2 linked regions of the Homo sapiens genome follow. The protein of the gene in region 1 interacts with the protein of each later gene in a biochemical or structural test. Each region holds a gene or a part of one and is shown in the gene's direction. Other genes may lie near its edges.

What was found. The genes of interacting proteins can lie anywhere in the genome.
Region 2: the proteins of GJC1 (region 1) and UBQLN4 form a complex in vitro, tested with the Homo sapiens proteins (one study listed by BioGRID).

The regions. Positions count from the first base shown.
Region 1 is NC_000017.11:44,823,235-44,828,182, reverse strand, and holds part of GJC1 (gap junction gamma-1 protein), read left to right. Parts: intron 1-4,948. UniProt on the Homo sapiens protein: One gap junction consists of a cluster of closely packed pairs of transmembrane channels, the connexons, through which materials of low MW diffuse from one cell to a neighboring cell.
Region 2 is NC_000001.11:156,047,299-156,050,798, reverse strand, and holds part of UBQLN4 (ubiquilin-4), read left to right. Parts: intron 1-245; coding exon 246-508; intron 509-2,139; coding exon 2,140-2,298; intron 2,299-3,500. UniProt on the Homo sapiens protein: Regulator of protein degradation that mediates the proteasomal targeting of misfolded, mislocalized or accumulated proteins.

The DNA.
Region 1 (4,948 bases):
TTATCCTTTGTCAATTAAATTTTATTCTTATATTTGTATAAGTCAGCCAAAGGGAAGGAATGCAGGGTTGTGTTTCTGATTAGTCCACTTCCCCCCAGGTCCAGGCTTGCCTATCAATTGAGTAATGAGGATCTTAGAATACAGGATATATAATTTAAATCCAGAGCATCGTTCTCTTAACAAATGCTTAGTGTTTGTTCCATGCCTAATTCAATGCAAAGTGATGAGTTCCAAAAAATATTGCTTTATTTGTTGTATGTTCACATTTCAAAATTGGTGAGGTGTGTTCTTTTTTCTTTTTCCTTTTCCTTTTTTTTTTGAGATGGAGTCTTGCTCTGTCGCCCAGGCTAGAGTGCAGTGGCTGGGACTACAGGTACCCGCCACCACGCCTGGCTAATTTTTTTTTGTAGTTTTAGCAGAGATGGGGTTTCACCATGTTAGCCATGATGGTCCCGATCTCCTGACCTTGTGATCCTCCCGCCTCGGCCTCCCAGAGTGCTGGGATTACAGGCGTGAGCCACCGTGCCCGGCCATCCTTTTTTTTTTCAAAGACATTGCTATGATGCCCAGGCTGTCATAGTACACTGCAGCCTCAAATTCCTGGGCTCAAGCCATCCTCCTGCCTCAGCCTCCTGAGTATACCCAGCTAATTTCTTTTTTCTCCTCCTTTCCTGTCCTGTCCTGTCCTTCCTTCCTATAGTTAAGTTTGACTAGGGGGTATGATTACTTATTTCTGAACTTATGCTTTTCTTGTAGTGTAGAAATACATGTGGCTTCTGTTCAAAATATTTGATAAAAATTTAGGCAAAGAAAAAGCAGGAATTTTTTTTTTTTGTTTGTTTGTTTTTGAGACGGAGTTTAGCTCTTATTGCCCAGGCTGGAGTGCAATGGTGCTATCTTGTCTCACTGCAACGGTGCTATCTTGTCTCACTGCAACCTCCGCCTCCCGAGTTCAAGTGATTCTCATGCCTCAGCCTCCCAAGTAGCTGGGATTACAGGAATGCCCCACCATGCCCAGCTAATTTTGTATTTTTTAGTAGAGACGGGGTTTCACCATGTTGGTCAGGCTGGTCTCCAACTCTTGACATTAGGTGATCCGCCTGCCTCTGCCTTCCAGAGTGCTGGGATTACAGGTGTGAGCCACCGCACTCGACCAGATTATTAGTTTTGTAAGACCGTTCCTTTGAGAATAGGTATGAGAAGATAGATTTTGGCTGATATCGTTAACCTGAAATTTAGACATAGAAAACAGTTCTGAGCTGTTAATATCAGCTGAATGGCAACAGTTGTTTTTCAACATACTGCTACAGCTGATGAGTTCAGTTTGTGTTGAAATAAGAACCTAGTAAAATGTATTTTTAAAAATATTTTTTAAGATTTAAATACAAATAATTTTAAATACAAAAAACTAGCTGGGCGTTTGAGCATTGCTATTTACTGCAACTCTAAAGAGTGAATGACCTGTTAGTCAGTACTGGCTGGCATACAGTTATACATTCTTGAATTTTACAAGTACTGTAGTTGGCTGAGAGCAGTCCTTGGCAATAAAGGTTTATCTTTCAGACCTGTGGAATATATTGCCCAAAGAGTTTTCCTAAAACAAGGATATGATGATCTCTTTGCAGATAGCATTTTACTTTTTTTTTTTTTTTTTAGACGGAGTCTCGCTCCATTGCCCAGGCTGGAGTGCAGTGGCGTGATCTCTGCTCACCACAAGCTCCACCTCCCGAGTTCATGCCATTCTCCTGCCTCAGCCTCCTGTGTAGCTGGGACTACAGGCGTCCACCACCATGCCCGGCTAATTTTTTGTATTTTTAGTAGAGACTGTTTCATCGTGTTAACCAGGATGGTCTCGATCTCCTGATCTCATGATCCGGCCACCTCGGCCTCCCAAAATGCTGGGGTTACAGTCGTGAGCCACCGTGCCCGGCCAGCATTTTACTTCTAAAGAAATGAAATGGGGCCAGGAGTGGTGGCTGATGCTTATAATCCCAGCACTTTGGGAGGCCAAGGCGGGTGGATCACCTGAGGTCAGGAGTTCAAGACCAGCCTAGCCAACATGGTGAAATCCCATTTCTACTAAAAGTACAAAAAATTACCTGGGCGTGGTGGCAGTCATCTGTAATCCCAGCTACTCGGGAGGCTGAGGCAGGCAAATGGCTTGAACCTGGGAGGTGGAGGTTGCAGTTAGCCGAGATCGCATCACTGCTCTCCAGCCTGGGCGACAGAGCGAGACTCTGTCTCAAAATAAAAAGAAAGAAATGAAGTATTCTGGTAAATGAATTCTTCTCCAGCTCTCAGTTGAAGCTTTGTTCTTTGAGGCTATAATGCTTGTAATACAAGCACAATTTGGACAAAAGCATTCTGGTGCCCATTAAGTCATTCAACTTTTTTTTTTTTTTTCTTTTGAGACTGAGTCTCACTCTTTCACCCAGGGTGGAGTGCAGTGGCACGATCTTGGCTCACTGCAACCTCCGTCTCCCAGGTTCAAGGAATTCTCTTGCCTCAGCCTTGCGAGAAGCTGGGATTATAGGTGTCCACCACCACGCCCAGCTAATTTTTGTATTTTTAGTAGAGAAAGGGTTTCACCATGTTGGCTAGGCTGGTCTCGAACTCCTGACCTCAGGTTGCCTCAGCCTCTCAAAGTGCTGGGATTACAGACGCGAACCACTGTGTCTGGCCCTTTTTATTTTTTTGAGACGGAGTTTTGCTCTTGTTGCCTAGGCTGGAGTGCAGTCGCGCAATCTCGGCTCACCGCAACCTCTGCCCCCTGGGCAAGATTCTCTTGCCTCAGCCTCCCAAGTAGCTGGGATTACAGGCATGCACCACCATGCCCAGCTAATTTTGTATTGGTAGAGACAGGGTTTCTCCATGTTGGTCAGGCTGGTCTCCTGACCTCAGGTGATCCACCTGCCTCGGTCTCCCAAAGTGCTGGGATTACAGGCATGAGCCACTGCGCCCAGCCTTTTTTTTTTTTTTTTTTTTTTTTTTTTTGTAATTGAGACAGAGTCTTGTTCTGTAGCCCAGGCTAAAGTGTAGTGGTGCTCTCAAGCGATCCTTCCACCACAGCATCCCTAGTAGCTGGGACCACAGGCCCACACCGCCACCACGCCCAGTTAATTTTAAAATTTTTTTTGGAAGAGACAGGGTCTTGTTTTGTTGCCCAGGCTGGTCTTGAACTCCTGGGCTCAAGCAGTCCTCTTGGCCTCTCAAATATGGGGATTACAGGCCAAGGCACCTGGATCCCAACGTTTTTTTTTTTTTTTTCTTCCCCAAAACATATAAGCACTTGATTAAAAAAAAAAAATAGTTGGACTCTTTCTTTCCCCCCCTTCTCACTATTGCACTTGACTAATTTTTTTTTTTTTTTTTTTAAGACAGTCTTGTTCTGTCATCCAGGCTGGAGTTGCAGTGGTGCGATCTCGGCTCGCTGCAACCTCTGCCTCCCAGGTTCAAGCAATTCTCCTGCCTCAGCCTCCCAAGTAATTGGGACTACTGGCGCATGCTGCCACGCCTGGCTAATTTGACTGATTTTATTTTATTTATTTTATTTTTGAGACAGAGCCTCACTGTGTCACCCAGTCTGGAGTGCAGTGGCACACATGTACTCCCAGCACTTTCGGAGGCTGAGGCTAGAGGATACCTTGAGCCCAGGAGTTTGAGACCACCCTGGGCAACATAGTGAGGGCCCTGTCTCTGCAAAAAGTAATTTGAAAATTAGCTGGATGTGGTGGCATACACCTGTGGTTTCAGCTACTCAGGAGGATGAGGCAGGAGGATTTTTTGAGCCCAGAAGTTGAAGGCTACAGTGAGTTGTGATCACACCATGCACTCCACCCTGGTCAACAGAGTGGGACAGTCTCTATTTGAAAAAAGAGGCCGGGTGCGGTGGCTCACACCTGTAATCCCAGCACTTTGGTAGGCCGAGGCAGGCAGGTCACAAGGTCAGGAGTTCGAGACCATCCTGGCCAACATGGTGAAACCCTATCTCTACTAAAATACAAAAAATTAGCCGGGCATGGTGGCGCGCGCCTGTAATCCCAACTACTCTGGAGGCTGAGGCAGGGGAATCGCTTGAACCCGGGAGGTGGAGGTTGCAGTGAGCTGAGATTGTGCCGCTGCACTCCAGCCTGGCAACAGAGCAAGACTCCATCTCAAAAAACGAAAAGAGGGCCAGGCACAGTGACTCACGCCTTGTAATCCCATCACTTTGGGAGGCCGAGGTGGGCAGGTCATGAGATCAGGAGATCGAGACCATCCTGGCTAACACCGTGAAACCCCGTCTCTACTAAAAATACAAAAAATTAGCCAGGTGTGGTGGCACACGCCAGTAGTCCCAGCTACTTAGGAGGCTGCGGCAGGAGAATCGCTTGAACCTGGGAGGCAGAGGTTGCAGTGAGCTAAGATTGTGCCACTGCACTCCAGGCTAGGCGACAGAACAAGACTCCATCTCAAAAAAAAAAAAAGGAAAGGAAAGAAAGGCCAGGCATGGTGCCTCACACCAGTAATCACAGCTCTTCTGGAGGTCATGGCAGGAGGATTGCTTGAGTCCAGGAGTTCAAGACCAACCTGGGCAATATGATGAGACCCTGTCTCTACAAAAATAAGAAATTTTAAAAAAAAGGAGGAAAGAGGCTAGGTACGGTGGCTCACGCCTGTAATCTCAGCACTTTGGGAGGCCGAGGCGGGGGGATCATGAGGTCAAGAGATCAAGACCATCCTGGCCAACATGGTGAAACCCCGTCTCTACTAAAAATACAAAAATTAGCTGGGCCTGGTGGCACACACCTGTAGTCCCAGCTACTTGCGAGACTGAGACAGGAGAATCACTTGAACCCGGGAGGCGGAGTTTGCAGTGAGCTGAGATCACACCACTGCACTGAAGCCTGGTGACAGAGCAACACTCCGTCTTAAAAAAAAAAAAAAAAAAAAAACAGGAAAGAAATGC
Region 2 (3,500 bases), on another chromosome or scaffold:
GCCACTCATTCAACAGACCATTGCTGGTTGCCTTCTCTCTGCTCAGTTCTATGTTTGGCACAGCCTCAGTCTAGTAGGCTCACATTTTTTTGCCAGCAGTGGATCAGGGCCGGGCTGTGGGAATGACAGGAAGAGGGACATGTGAGAAGCATTTGGGGCGTGTCCTGGAGATCTGAATTCAGTGGCTCTGGCTAAGTGAGGACACTGTTCTTGTGGCAGACTGTGACCCTGCCCCCTTCCCACAGCTGGCTTTGGGGGCATCCTGGGGCTGGGCAGCCTAGGCCTGGGCTCTGCCAACTTCATGGAGCTGCAGCAGCAGATGCAGCGGCAGCTGATGTCCAATCCTGAGATGCTGTCACAGATCATGGAGAACCCCCTGGTCCAGGATATGATGTCTAACCCTGATCTGATGCGTCACATGATTATGGCCAACCCCCAGATGCAGCAGTTGATGGAGCGGAACCCTGAGATCAGCCACATGCTCAATAACCCTGAACTCATGAGGCAGGTGAGTATGAGAGGGCTGGAGAGCTGGAGGACACTGGTGCCCAGCCGTGCCCTGCCCAGCCTTTCCTACTTTGTCCTACATTGATTTGTTCATTCGTGTATTCAGCAGTTTTGAACACTGGAGGTACAGGGATGAAAAGACAGGCCTAGCTTTTCAGGAATTCCAGGTGTCAAAGGGAAGTAGGACAAGTAAACCGGCAATTAGAATACAATGTGGCCATTGCTATCAGAAGGATAATCATGGGATCCTCTAGGAGCATAGAGAAGAGCTCCTGACCCTACCCTAAGGCTTAGAGGAGGCCTTAAGAAATGTCACCGAGCTGAGACCCAAAGGAGGAAGACGAACCAGGGGGAAAGAAAGAAGAACATTCAGGGCTGAGGGACAGCAAATATAAAGGCCTGGGAGTGAAAGATAGTAGGTTGTTTGGGGAGCACTGTGGCTGGGCAGGGCCCAGTTGGGAATGGAGAACCAGGGGAGACTGTTGTGATGTTGCTCTTTGGGAGTTCCAGCTCATGGTCCGCTCCACCAGAGGACCAAGGTAGATGATCTTCCCAGCAGGGCTGTGGACACCAGTGCTGGACTCACCAGAAGATAATTTATGTAAGGTCAAGGACTTGTGAGTGTTTTGTTCACTGTCTAGAACAGTGCCTGGTGCGTGGTAGTCATGCAGTAAATATTTATTGAATGAATGAATTACGGAACAAGAGATCAGAGTTCTGGGAAGCTGGGCATATCAGTTATAAAGGAGTCTTAGAAAAGGCAAGTGTGGAGCACATTTGGGAAGGAGAGGGAAGGTATTCCAAGTTGAATGGGAACAAGTAGTTATACTTATTTTTCTGTGATGAACTCCCCCGGGGTTGACATAGCCACCCCTTATTGAGATTGTGCCATTGGCTCCATAGAAGAAAGCCCCCATCTTCAGTGTTTCTCAAGGTTCAGGCAGAGCAAAGACTTGGGGGTGGGAATTACAGGGTGTCAGTAGCTTTATTCCAGCTTGAACGCTTTCCTTCCCCAACTTGCAGTCATTTACCAGGAATCACAGTATGGTCTTGGACAGACCAACCAACCTGGCTTTGAACACTGTCTTCACCACTCAGTGACTGTGTGTCCCAGGGCAGCAAGTCAATTAACATCTCTGAGCCTATTTGCTCATCTGCAAAATAGGGACAGAAATAAACACCTGAGATGGTTATTGTGGAGATTACATGACTTGAATTCCGTAAGCTACTTGGCCCTGTGCCCATATACAGTAGGTTCTCAGTAGATGTTAATTTTCTCTTCTGCCTCCTCCCCTTTCTTTCTGTGTCTCTTCTGACTCAGTTTCCTTGTGCACCCTGACACTTCTTTGGACACTCTGAGCCTAAGGGAGGGAAGCTGCTGCCCTCACTTCAGCTGGGATCATTGTCCTCCACTAGAAAAAGCCAACCAAAATACCCACAGGGAGGCGGGCTTGGAGCCAAGATTACAGTAGAGGAAGGAAGTCCAGTTTACTCTACTCCCTGTCACTGTGGGGCAGTTCCTGGGCCCTGGTCCTGATCCTGATACAGACCCCCCTTCCTCAAGGCCCACCCTTTTCCTAGGTTGGTGCTCCCCTGGTTCCGGGGCCCATTTTGTCTCTCTCCCTTGATCAGACAATGGAGCTTGCTCGGAATCCAGCCATGATGCAAGAGATGATGCGGAACCAGGACCGGGCCCTGAGCAACCTTGAGAGCATCCCTGGAGGGTATAATGCCCTCCGCCGCATGTACACGGACATCCAGGAGCCCATGTTCAGTGCTGCCCGGGAACAGGTGGGATCAAGGGCCAGGGTAGTGGGTTGGGCTGTCTGGGCTCGAGATTCCCTACCCCCACCCCAGGCAAACCTGGGCCTGCTCTTCTTTCTTTCCCCAGTCCCCTGAGGGGTGGGCCTTGGCTTGAAGGCAGTTCTCAACAGTACATATCCGGGGATGGTCCATTTTGGCATGGACAAATATAAGCAGAGGTCCTTGTGGAAGTGGTTGAGGCATAGCATCCAAGGAACTTGACATCCTGACAAACTTCTTGTACCAGGGGCTCAAAGGTCACGTGGCAGGCCTGAGGTCAGACGCCAGCCCTGATACAGCATGTCTCAAGTATGGTCCATGGATCACCTGCATCAGAATCACCTGGGGACCTTGTTGATAATGAGAATCCTGGTCCCCACCTTTGAGCTACTTATTGAATCCATTTCTGGGGTTGGGCCCCAGGATTATACACTTTTAAAAATGCTTTATGAATCCTATTCAAGTACACACAAAAAAATAGATAAAAATGTAACATTCTTTTTTTTTGTTTTTAATCAATGTTGCCCTAACATGTTGCCATATATAATTTCAGTGCCCTTTTGGTTCTTTCTTTCTTTCTTTTTTTTTTTTTTTTTTGAGATGGAGTCTCGCTCTATCGCCCAGGCTGGAATGCAGTGGCGCAATCTCGGCTCACTGTAACCTCCGCCTCCCGGGTTCAAGCAATTCTCCTGCCTTCTCCCTGGTGGCTAAGACTACAGGTACATGCCACCACGCCCGGCTAACTTTTTATATTTTTAGTAGAGATGGGGTTTCACCATGTTAGCCAGGATGATCTTGATCTCCTGACCTCATGATCCGCCCACCTTGGCCTCCAAAAGTGCTGAGATTACAGGAGTGAGCCACCGCGCCTGGCCATGGTTCTTTTTAAAAATTTAATTTTACATTAAACACATTCTATGTTTGTATGTTTGAAAATGCAAAAGTTGGCCAGGCGCAGTGGCTGACACCTGTAATCCCAGCACTTTGGGAGGCTGAGGTGGGCGGATCACGAGGTCAGGAGATCGAGACCATCCTGGCTAAAATGGTGAAACCCCATCTCTACTAAAAATACAAAAAATTAGCCGGGCATGATGGCACATGCCTGTAGTCCCAGCTATTTGGGAGGCTGAGGCAGGAGAATCGCTTGAACCCGGGAGGCAGAGGTTGCAGTGAGCCAAGATCGTGCCACT